3 linked regions of the Homo sapiens genome follow. The protein of the gene in region 1 interacts with the protein of each later gene in a pairwise test. Each region holds a gene or a part of one and is shown in the gene's direction. Other genes may lie near its edges.

What was found.
Region 2: the proteins of SLC16A13 (region 1) and CREB3L1 interact in binary tests that used the Homo sapiens proteins (3 or more experiments, as listed by UniProt).
Region 3: the proteins of SLC16A13 (region 1) and TMEM160 interact in binary tests that used the Homo sapiens proteins (3 or more experiments, as listed by UniProt).

What each region holds. Positions count from the first base shown.
Region 1 is NC_000017.11:7,033,691-7,037,437, forward strand, and holds the start of SLC16A13 (monocarboxylate transporter 13), read left to right. Parts: upstream 1-2,324; 5' UTR 2,325-2,692; coding exon 2,693-2,891; intron 2,892-3,036; coding exon 3,037-3,180; intron 3,181-3,747.
Region 2 is NC_000011.10:46,275,926-46,279,672, forward strand, and holds the start of CREB3L1 (cyclic AMP-responsive element-binding protein 3-like protein 1), read left to right. Parts: upstream 1-1,736; 5' UTR 1,737-2,186; coding exon 2,187-2,288; intron 2,289-3,747.
Region 3 is NC_000019.10:47,047,076-47,050,822, reverse strand, and holds the start of TMEM160 (transmembrane protein 160 precursor), read left to right. Parts: upstream 1-2,198; 5' UTR 2,199-2,208; coding exon 2,209-2,416; intron 2,417-3,747.

The sequences.
Region 1 (3,747 bases):
TGGTGGGCTAATTCATGGGGATTAATTAATCCATTAATCCCATCCAATCACCTTTTAAAGTTTCCACCTCTCAGTACCGCCAAGTTGGGGATTAAGTTTCAATATGAGTTTTTGGAGGTAACATTCAAACCATCGCAGTGGTCGTTTCTCAATCTTTTTAAACCCATGACCTGGATTAGATTTTTTTTTTTTTTAATCAAAAAACAAAAACTAGGCAGGGCATGGTGGCTCACGCCTATAATCCCAGCACTTTGGGAGGCCCAGGCAGGCAGATCACCTGAGGTCAGGAGTTCGAGACCAGCCTGACCAAAATGGTGAAACCCTGTCTCTACTAAAAATACAAAAAATTTAGCCAGGCATAGTGGCAAACACCTGTAGTCCCACCTATTCGGGAGACTGAGGCAGGAGAATCACTTGAACCCAGGAGGTGGAGGTCGCAGTGAGCCGAGATCATGCCATTGCACTCCAGCCTGGGAGACAAGAGCAAAACTCCATCTCAAAACAAAAAACAAAAAACAAAAAAAAAAACACTAAACTAAAACCTTCCTTCACTTCCCACTACAGCAGCTTATCCCCTGTTGAAAATAACACCAATAAGACCAGCTAAGCTAATATTACTTGGCTCCTGCTGCATGTCAGCACATAAACTAAGCATTTTTAGTGCATGGATTTTCTAACTGAACCCCTTGGGCAACGCTTAATAGTAGGTACTATTATCCCCAGTTTACAGATGGGGAAACCAACTGAGAGATTCAGCATCTTGATCGAGTTAAGTAATAAAGTCAAGATTGGAACTGGGCCAGGCACGGTGGCTCACGCCTGTAATCCCAGAACTTTGGGAGGCCAAGGCTGGTGGATCACTTGAGGTCAGGAGTTCGAGACCAGCGTGGCCAACATGGTGAGACCTCGTCTCTACTAAAAATACCAAAATTAACTGGGCGTTGTGGTGGGAGCCTGTAATCCCAGAAACTCAGGAGACTGAGGCAGGAGAATCACTTGAACCCGGGAGGTGGAGGTTGCAGTGAGCCAAGATCATGCCACTGCACTCCAGCCTGGGCCACAGAGCAAGACTCCATCTCAAAATAAATAAATAAATAAATAAATAAATAAATAAATAAATAAATAAAAGACTGGAACTGTGATCTGATTCTAAAGACCCGAGTTCTTAATCACTATGTAATACAGCCACAGCAATTTCTGTATCTTTGGCATATTCCCCACCAGCCGACATTTTGACTCTTAGAAAGTATATATGTGTATTATTGATGATTACTTTTATTTCCCACATATAAAATTATTTAAGGCTCAATATGTCTTTTAAGACTACACACCTCCCTCCCTGCCTCCACTTCTTGTTTGCTGCTTTCCCCAGTAATCTGGGAGTGAACATTGAGTCCACGGTTTCAAGGTCAGGGTCCTGGGAAGTATGGCTTATAATGAAGGAACAGGAAATCCAAGCCATTGGTGTTATGGAGACTGGGAAGGACTGGGGAGTGTTTGCTAGGGGCCTGAGGACTACTTGGGTAAGAGGGGGCTGACTGCTCCAGTGGCCAGGGTCATAGTTTGTCTCTTTAGTCTACCCCACCATCAGATCAAAAAAGGTGGTTAGGAAGTGGTTGTTACTAGAGGGCAGAGGAAAAGGTTCCAGCCCCAGTGAGGAAGAGGTAGGTGGTGTTGGTGGGGCCCTGTGTGAGCTTACAGCCGCCCTTCCTCTCCTCAGTTATTTTTGGTCTCTGTGACCTGTAGGTTTCCTGTTAGTGGGAACAGAAGTGACAGGAACGAGTTCCCACTACAGAAATGAACGCCAGGAGTCCAACTCATTCCCCTTCTCTCTTCCCTTAGCCGTTGAACTTCTCAGGGATCCAGGCTTCTAGGTCTGCGTGCCTAGGGCTGCGTGTTAGTGGCTTCAGGCGCTGCGCCAAACACTTCGTTTGAGTCTCATCTCCTAACCCCTCCCCTACCCCCAACAGGGCCTTGCAATTCCTGGACCCCTCATTAAAGCAAGAGAGTCCTCTCCTCTCCAGACCCAGTTTACCCACCACTAACCCTTCCGTGTGGCTCTGGGTGCTGAAACGGGGATGACTTGGCCCGCTAGGTGAAGAGGAGACGGAAGCTTCCTGGCAGTCCCCGCGTCACGTGGGGCCCTACCTAGTCAGCCTCCTAACGCCCCTCCTTACGCATGCGCCCATTCACTGCTGGTCCCCAACAATGCCTAAATCCCGCCCTGCCCTTCTCGTTCCGCCCCTGCCCGGGAGCCCCGCGTCCTCATTGGCGAGCTCCAGGGTGGCCCGGCCCGGACACCCCAGTGATAAAATAGATCATCTACACGGAAACTGGCGCGCTCCAGGGGTGGGGCCCAAACTCAGTTCCACCCTCTGGCTCCCAGCCGAACACCGAACCGGGACCGATCCGGCCCCGGCTTGAACTAGCTCAGCTCCGAGCTCGCGGAACCACGCCCCCGGGAGACTCTGGCCCGGCCAGCGCGGGCCAGGTCTTCAGTCCTATATCGCCCCGCCTTGGGAAAAGGTGCAGGGGCCTCTCGCCGCCTCGTCGGGCCCTTCCTCTCTACCTGCCTCTCCAACCCCTCTCGGCCCCGAGCCACCCGGCAGCGGGGGTGGGTGTGCAGAGGTGCGGCGTCCAGAACCCGGCTCCTGCAGAGGCTCTGGGTGGCAGCAGCCCTGTTACCGCTTAGATGGCGCGCAGGACAGAGCCCCCCGACGGGGGCTGGGGATGGGTGGTGGTGCTCTCAGCGTTCTTCCAGTCGGCGCTTGTGTTTGGGGTGCTCCGCTCCTTTGGGGTCTTCTTCGTGGAGTTTGTGGCGGCGTTTGAGGAGCAGGCAGCGCGCGTCTCCTGGATCGCCTCCATAGGAATCGCGGTGCAGCAGTTTGGGAGTGAGTGCGGCGCCTGGATCTGGCGGACTGCGACCCTCGGAAGGGAGAGGGAATGCGGCGACTGGGAAGTGGAAGGGCGAGGGGCGGGAGATGCTGGGGGGGAGACCCCTGAGATCTTCTCGCAGCGCCCCTTCCACTTCCTCAGGCCCGGTAGGCAGTGCCCTGAGCACGAAGTTCGGGCCCAGGCCCGTGGTGATGACTGGAGGCATCTTGGCTGCGCTGGGGATGCTGCTCGCCTCTTTTGCTACTTCCTTGACCCACCTATACCTGAGTATTGGGTTGCTGTCAGGTGAGAGCCTGCACAAGGGCAGGAGAGTCAAATGCTTAGATCGTTGGATGTTCACCTCCTTCCTGCTCCTTCCAAAGGGTTCGGGGAGAAGCTGAGGGAAAGTTTAGCTAGCACCTGTACCCAGAAGGGAATTCTTAATAGGAATGACTAAAGCGACAAACATGGTGAGGAATTAGGAAATTCAAGGATGATGAAACCTGGCCGGGCACGGTGGCTCACGCCTGTAATCCCAGCACTTTGGGAAGCCGAGGCGGGTGGATCACGAGGTCAGGAGTTTGAGACCAGCCTGGCCAACATGGTGAAACCCCGTCTCTACAAAAATACAAAAATTAGCCGGGCCTGGTGGCGCTAATCCCAGTTACTCGGGAGGCTGAGGCAGGAGAATCGCTTGAACCCGGGAGGCGGAGGTTGCAGTGAGCCAAGATCGCACCACTGCACTCCAGCCTGGGCGACAGAGCAAGATTCTGTCTCAAAAAAAAAAAAAAAAAAGATGAAACCAAGTATACAAGCCCAGAAGCCCAGGGCTAATGGGACTGGAGTGTAAAAGGAAGAATTACTATAAAATGG
Region 2 (3,747 bases), on another chromosome or scaffold:
GACACCCATGGTCCCAGCACCCTAATTCTACCCGCCACTGTTGTGAAAGTGAATTGATTTCTTTTTGGCCCAGCCTTACTTCTCGGAGTTGCATGGCTGGTGAACTGGTCCCCAGAGCATGGGTTATAATCCTACTTTCTCAGGAGCAAATTCTACAGGAGGCCTGGGAGCTAACAGTCATGTGACAGCCTGGAAGGTCAGAACTTCACTCTCCAGAACTATGTCAACTAGATCATAAGGTGGGGAAAAGCCACGTGACTGCCTGCCTGCCAGGGAAGCAAACAACTGCTGTCTCAGCCTTGGTATGAACCCTTCTCCCACCTGGTGCTGAGAGCAATTTTGGTGACATCCATGGCTTAGCTGCAATGACATCTCTACCTCTTAAAGGCCTTTGGTTCCTGAGCTAATTAAACGTCCCAGACAGAAAGGACATGCTTAATCTTATTAATAACTTCTGGTCAGGAAACAGTGTGCCCAGCCCTCTGAGGGAGTGCCTTTCTGAACCACCTCCATTTGTTCAGGTGCTTGGCGATTGCTATCAGCCCTTTCAAGAGATTAAGTTTGTACGCAGGAGCAAGCCACTTAGGTAATGGATCCCGGGGCCCTGGGAGTGTCTGGTGACTGTGGAGTGTGCAGCCAGCCAGCACCTTGGCTCATTCAGATTCCAGAACCACTGTTTTCCAACTTCCTGCTCTTCAGAACCATTGGGGGGTAGGGAGGGACTTGACTATCGAGGAGAAGAGGGGGACTCTCCTATCTCTGGCTGTTCACCCAGCCCTTTCACACAGAGGGAAGCTGGGGACTGTCCTTGCCCTGAGGAGCCTCACAGCTCAGTGGGGTCACAGATACAAACAATGTGAGCAAATAAGGACAATACCACATTAGACTGGAAACAGTGGAGGTGAGCACATGATGCCCTGTGGGTGTATACCGTTGGTAACTGCTCCAGCCTGGGGGTTCAGGGAAGGCTTCCTGGAAGAAGAAACAGGTGAGATGAGAAATGAGAGTTACAAGCTGAAAATCGGCTGGGCATGGTGGCTCACACCTGTAATCCCAGCACTTTGGGAGGCCAAGGAGGCCGGATCACCTGAGGTTAGGAGTTCCAGAGGAGCCTGGCCAACATGGTGAAACCCCGTCCCTACTAAAAATACAAAAATTAGCTGGGCGTGGTGGGGCGCGCCTGTAATTCCAGGTGCTCAGGAGGCTGAGGCAGGAGAATCGTTTGAAACTGGGAGGCGGAGGTTGCAGTGAGCCGAGAACACACCATTGCACCCCAGCCCGGGCAAAAAGAGCGAAACTCCGTGTCAAAAAAATAGTAATAATAATAAATAAAATTTTTAAAAAGCTGAAAATCTCCCCCGTTGAGGGGAGATCTGTTGAGGGGACTGTGAAATGGAATTCCCTGACTGGGTTTCGTGCAGGCTTTAGTATAAGGCTGGAAGGATGGAAATAGCTCCCTCATCAATTTACGGGACAGTGGTTGGTGAAGCCTTAAAATGCCAATGTTCCAGGAACACTGTTATCGGTTCCAGGACTATTGTTGCTTTAAGCCCCCACCTTGAGCATTCAGAGAAGAGAGATTACTAAGACGAAGTTGCAGATGTCTCTTTAAAAAAGGAGAGAGGATTCCTCGAGCCACGCCCTCTTCTCATTAATATTAAATTATTGTGAATATTGATGTGGGGGCGTGGCGCCTTGGCCAGCTGGGCTAGCCAGCCAGGGGTTCCCGGTTTCACAGAGAGGAAAGTGACAGAAGACGTGCGGAGGGAGACGCAGAGACAGAGGAGAGGCCGGCAGCCACCCAGTCTCGGGGGAGCACTTAGCTCCCCCGCCCCGGCTCCCACCCTGTCCGGGGGGCTCCTGAAGCCCTCAGCCCCAACCCCGGGCTCCCCATGGAAGCCAGCTGTGCCCCAGGAGGAGCAGGAGGAGGTGGAGTCGGCTGAATGCCCACGGTGCGCCCGGGGCCCCTGAGCCCATCCCGCTCCTAGCCGCTGCCCTAAGGCCCCCGCGCGCCCCGCGCCCCCCACCCGGGGCCGCGCCGCCTCCGTCCGCCCCTCCCCCGGGGCTTCGCCCCGGACCTGCCCCCCGCCCGTTTGCCAGCGCTCAGGCAGGAGCTCTGGACTGGGCGCGCCGCCGCCCTGGAGTGAGGGAAGCCCAGTGGAAGGGGGTCCCGGGAGCCGGCTGCGATGGACGCCGTCTTGGAACCCTTCCCGGCCGACAGGCTGTTCCCCGGATCCAGCTTCCTGGACTTGGGGGATCTGAACGAGTCGGACTTCCTCAACAATGCGGTAAGATGAAGGGTCTCCGTTCCCGTTCCACCCCTCGGCACCCGTCCTCGCGGCGCGCCTGGGCCCCTAGAAGGACCCGACTACACATCACTGGGCAGGAGCCGGGGAGAGGGTTCAGCGCAGGGTCTCCAGGAGCGACATGTGTTTGGAGCTAAGCGCCCCTCCTGGGGGCTCAATCTTTGAATACACTGGCCTCCACCTTCTAGGGGGAAGGGGCCATCGAGGTATCGGGTCCGTCCGATCCTCGGATCTGAGCTCAAGAGACACCAATCCCGCCCTCCACCCACGTCTTCTAGCCGTCCCCAACCCACCCCAGGTTCCAGGACCAGACTGGGCGCAAAGTGGCAGCGCCCTTTCCTGCGCCTCCCTTGGGGCTTCGGTGGCTCATAGGCTGGATCTCCGCTGGGGGGCGCACCGGGGAACGTTCAGAGGGCCTGAGACCCGACCCCTCGGGGAAGCCAGGCCCAGAAATTTCAGGGTGCTACCCTGGCAGCCCCAGGGAATCAGGCCCAGAGACCCCCCACCCCAGGGAGGGACCTGAGGCTGGGGGCTGGGAAGAGGCGGTCAGGGCAACATAGGGTGATGGCTCAGGAGGAGGGAGCCATTTCTCTCCATCTGCCTCTAGATCTCTGCTCTGTCCCTCTGTTCCTGGAGTCTGGCTGACTTTCTCCCTCTCCCTATGTCTTCTTGACTAGGTCCGACTGTGAGCTTGTCTTTCTCCTCTTTCTCACTCTTCCCCTCCCTCCCTAAGGAAACGTGGCTTCTCTCTCTTCTTCCCTCCCTCCCTCTCTCAGGCTCAGCCCTAAGGCCTTGATGGGGGAGGGGCACGGACTTAGAATGGGAGAAAATATTTGGGTTCAGAAGGGCCTGCCCAGATGAAATGTGGATTGTTTGGGGAGTCTAGTGGGAGCCCCCTCTTCAGTGAACCACCAGTTGCGTGTGCATGCCTGTTCACACGCCACACACACACACACACCCTGTGATCAAGCACTTGAGACTCTTTACCTGCTGACCTCTACCTCCCAGGACCAAGATAAACTTGGCCAGGCAAGAGTCAAGTCCTTAGAGGACTTGAGCATCTTGGACTTCCACCTAAACTGTCCCAGGCCACTAGATTGATGGTGAGGAACCAGGCCAAGGGACAGGAGCCGGAGTCAAGGAGGCATGGGGGCTGAGGTCTCCCTGTTCTCCATTAAGCAGCACATCCTGGTCACCCTGCGCTCTGAGGAAGGCCCCTGTCCCAGGCAGAGAGAGCATAATTCAGCAGACAAGACAAGGGTATAAGGGCAGAGGGCTTGCATTGACTGCAGCGAGACTTGGTTTCTAGTCCTGGCTCTGCTTCCCCTGTGAGCTTGGCCCCTACCACTGGCTCTCCTCCCTGAGCCTCAGTTTCTTTGTCTGTAAAATGGGGGAGAGGTTGGATCAGGTCTTCCTATAGATGGTTCTGGCACAGATCCCA
Region 3 (3,747 bases), on another chromosome or scaffold:
GTCATACTCCTATTCTCCGTTCTCAACTACTCATACGTGCCCTGCTCTTGTTTACACTGCTGGTTTACACTGTTTCTCCAAGCCATCACAGCTGATATCTCCTCATGCTATCCCCAAACTGCCACTCTTAACTCCTGAAGTAAACAAATAATCTTTGCTGGCAGGACTATGCTGAATCTCCTTAGGCACTCTCTAATCAGATGTCCTAGGTCCTCCCAATTCTTAGACCTTTTATACCTGTTTTTCTCCTTCTCTTATTCCATTTAGTTTTTCAATTCATACAAAACTGTACCCAGGCCATCACCAATACTTCTACACAACAAATGTTTCTTCTAACAACCCCACAATATCACCCCTTACCACAAAATCTTCCTTCAGCTTAATCTCTCCCACTTTAGGTTCGCACGCCGCCCCTAATCCTGCTTGAAGCAGCCCCGAGAAACATCGCCCATTCTCTCTCCATACCACCCCCCAAGACTTCAACACTATTTTGTTTTATTTTTCTTATTAATAAAAGAAGGCAGAAATGTCAGGCCTCTGAGCCCAAGCCAAGCCATCGCATCACCTGTGACTTGCACGTATACATCCAGATGGCCTGAAGTAACTGAAGATCCACAAAAGAAGTAAAAATAGCCTTAACTGATGACATTCCACCATTGTGATTTGTTCCTGCCCCACCTAACTGATCAATGTACTTTGTAATCTCCCCCACCCTTAAGAAGGTTCTTTGTAATTCTCCCCACCCTTGAGAATGTACTGTGTGAGATCCACCCCTGCCCGCAAAACATTGCTCTTAACTTCACCGCCTATCCCAAAACCTCTAAGAACTAATGATAATCCACCACCCTTTGCTGACTCTCTTTTCGGACTCAGCCTGCCTGCAGCCAGGTGAAATAAACAGCCATCTTGCTCACACAAAGCCTGTTTGGTGGTCTCTTCACATGGACGCGCATGAAACGATTCTCCTGCCTCAGCCTCACAAGTAGCTGGGATTACAGGTGCCTGCCACCATGCCTAATTTTTGTATTTTTAGTAGAGATGGGGTTTCACCATGTTGGTCAGGCTGGTCTCGAACTCCTGATCTCGTGATCTGCCCGCCTCAGACTCCCAAAGTGGTGGGATTACAGATGTGAGCCACCGTGCCTGGCCCGGGCTTGGATTTTATGAAGAGGAAAAGTAGGGGAGCTAGCAAGGGGGTTACACTTGAGGAGGGAGTTCAAATGGACTGCACTGCATAGCCTGCAGGCTTGCAATGAATGTGAAGCTTTAAATGGGATTAAGTGCAAATTGAAAATATTCCAGACACATTTTTCACATTCCTGGCTAGTGAAAAGGTTTATGCTGATGAGAGAAGGCAAAGCTGAATCCCGGAATGGGTTAGGGCAAAGAAAACAAATCTGTCTTAAAGAGACAGACCTGGCCGGGCACGGTGGCTCACGCCTGTAATCCCAGCACTTTTGGAGGCCGAGGCGGTTGGATCACTTGAGGTCAGGAGTTCGAGACCAGCCTGGCCAACATGGTGAAACCCTGTCTCTACTAAAGATACAAAAATTAGCTGGGCGTGGTGGCGCATGCCTATAATCCCAGCTACTCAGGAGGCTGACGCAGGAGAATCGCTTGAACCCGGGAGGTGGAGGTTGCAGTGAGCCGAGATCGCACCACTGCACTCCAGCCTGGGCGACAGAGCAAGACTCGGTCTCGGGGCGGGGAAAAAAAAGGAAGGAGGGAAGGAAGGAAGGAGGGGAGGGAAGGGAGGGAGGGAGGGAAAAAGAAAGAGAGAAAGAAAGAAAGAAGGAAAGAAAGAAAGAGAAAGAAAGAAAAAGAAAGAAAGAAAGAAAGAGAAAGAAAGAAAGAGAAACAACCAAGAAACAACTACAATAGGTGCTCGGCATGTACTCCGTTAAAAAAGATAGAATTAAAACTACAATTCCCAGCAGACATCTCGCCTGCGACTTCTGAATATCGGCTTTCCCCGAGCGCAATGATCGCTGGGATTCGTAGTCCGGTACAAAATCAAGGAGGGACGGGCACTACCGGCCTAGATGACAGAGGAGGGAATCACTGCCATTCCGACCAATGGACAGTTCACGCCGGACCTGAGTGGCGAGCGCATAGCCAATGGGTAAGCCATTCATCCTGAGTGACATGGGTTGCAACCTACCGGAGGCCGGTGGGGCGGTACGGCGCGCGGCGGCCGTAGTGCGAATCATGGGAGGCGGCTGGTGGTGGGCTCGGGCCGCTCGCCTTGCCCGTCTTCGCTTCCGGAGGTCGCTACTGCCGCCTCAGCGGCCCCGGAGCGGGGGCGCCCGGGGGTCCTTCGCCCCCGGCCACGGTCCCCGCGCCGGGGCTTCGCCGCCCCCAGTGTCCGAGCTGGATCGTGCGGACGCCTGGCTCCTCCGAAAAGCGCACGAGACAGGTCGGTGGCTAGGGGTGGGGGCGGTGCGGATGGGACGGGGGTCCCGGGCTCGCGTGGGACCTTGATGGGGCGGGGGCTTCTGCAGGAAACGGGGCCCGGGCTCGGCTCCGAGAAGGGCTTCAGTGTGAGCGCACGGAAGCGCAGACTGCAAGAGCGCAGGTGCCCGCAGAGGGGATGGGCTTGCGGGGAGGACGAGGACCCCGGGTAACGGGGCGCCGTAGGGATTGGAGGGGGTGGTAGGGTTGCGCGAGGCAGCCTCGTAGAATCGCGCCTGCCGTGGGGAGAGGGGCTTCAGGGAGAGCTTAGGGTCTGTGGAGTTGGGTACAAGATGGGTCCATCCCGATTGCAGAGGCCACCACTGTGCAGAGAGCGGGAGTGTGGATCCCCGCAGAAGAGGGGGAAGTTCAGGATTGGAGAAGGGGACAACCAATCGGGAGAAAGCTCTCTGCTGATTGGAGGGGGAGGTGATCTAGGCTGCAGAGGGCGGGGCTTGTGACGGAGGCGAGGTCCAGAATGGAGCGGACTGGCCATGTTTGTTTTTTTTTTAATTTTATTTTTTTAATGACGGTGTCTTGCTCTGTCACCGAGGCTGGACCGCAGTGGCGCAATCGTAGCCCACTGCAGCCTTGAACTCCTGGGCTCAAGCTATCCTCTTGCCTCAGCCTCCTGCTTAGCTGGAGCTACAGGCATACACCACCGCACCCAACTATTTTAATTTATGTAGAGACGGGGTCTTGCTTTGTTGCCCAGGCTGGTCTGAACTCTTGGGCTCAGAGAATCCTCCTGCCTTGGCTTCCCAAAGTGCTGGGATTATAGGTGTGAGTCACCTCACTAGGCCAGGACCGGGCATCTAGATATAGGGTGTGGTGGGCTGTTTGTAAAGGACGTGAATGGGGACGGACGTGGGTGGGATTGGCCCAGGCCATACTCGGTAGGACATGGATGGGATTGGCCCAGGCCATACTCGGTAGGAGATGGCGGCATTTGAAGGAAAAGAAGGGCGAGGCTGAAGAGCGGCCTGGATTAGGAAACAGTTTGTCCCAGAGTTCTGAGAAAGAAGTGAGTGGGCAGGCCGTGGGGGTACACGTAGAGGGAGGGGTTTGGCCAAGATGACTCCTCAGATGGAGGTTCTGCAACTTTGCCCCTAGATTGTCCTCCACATTCTGCAGGGACTATCTTGAATCCTTTATTTTTTTTGAGACGGAGTCTCACTCTGTCGCCCAGGCTGGAGTGCAGTGGCATGATCTTGGCTCGCTGCAACCTCTACCTCCTGGATTCAAGTGATTCTCCTCCCTCAGCTTCCTGAGTAGCTGGGACTACAAGCACGTGCT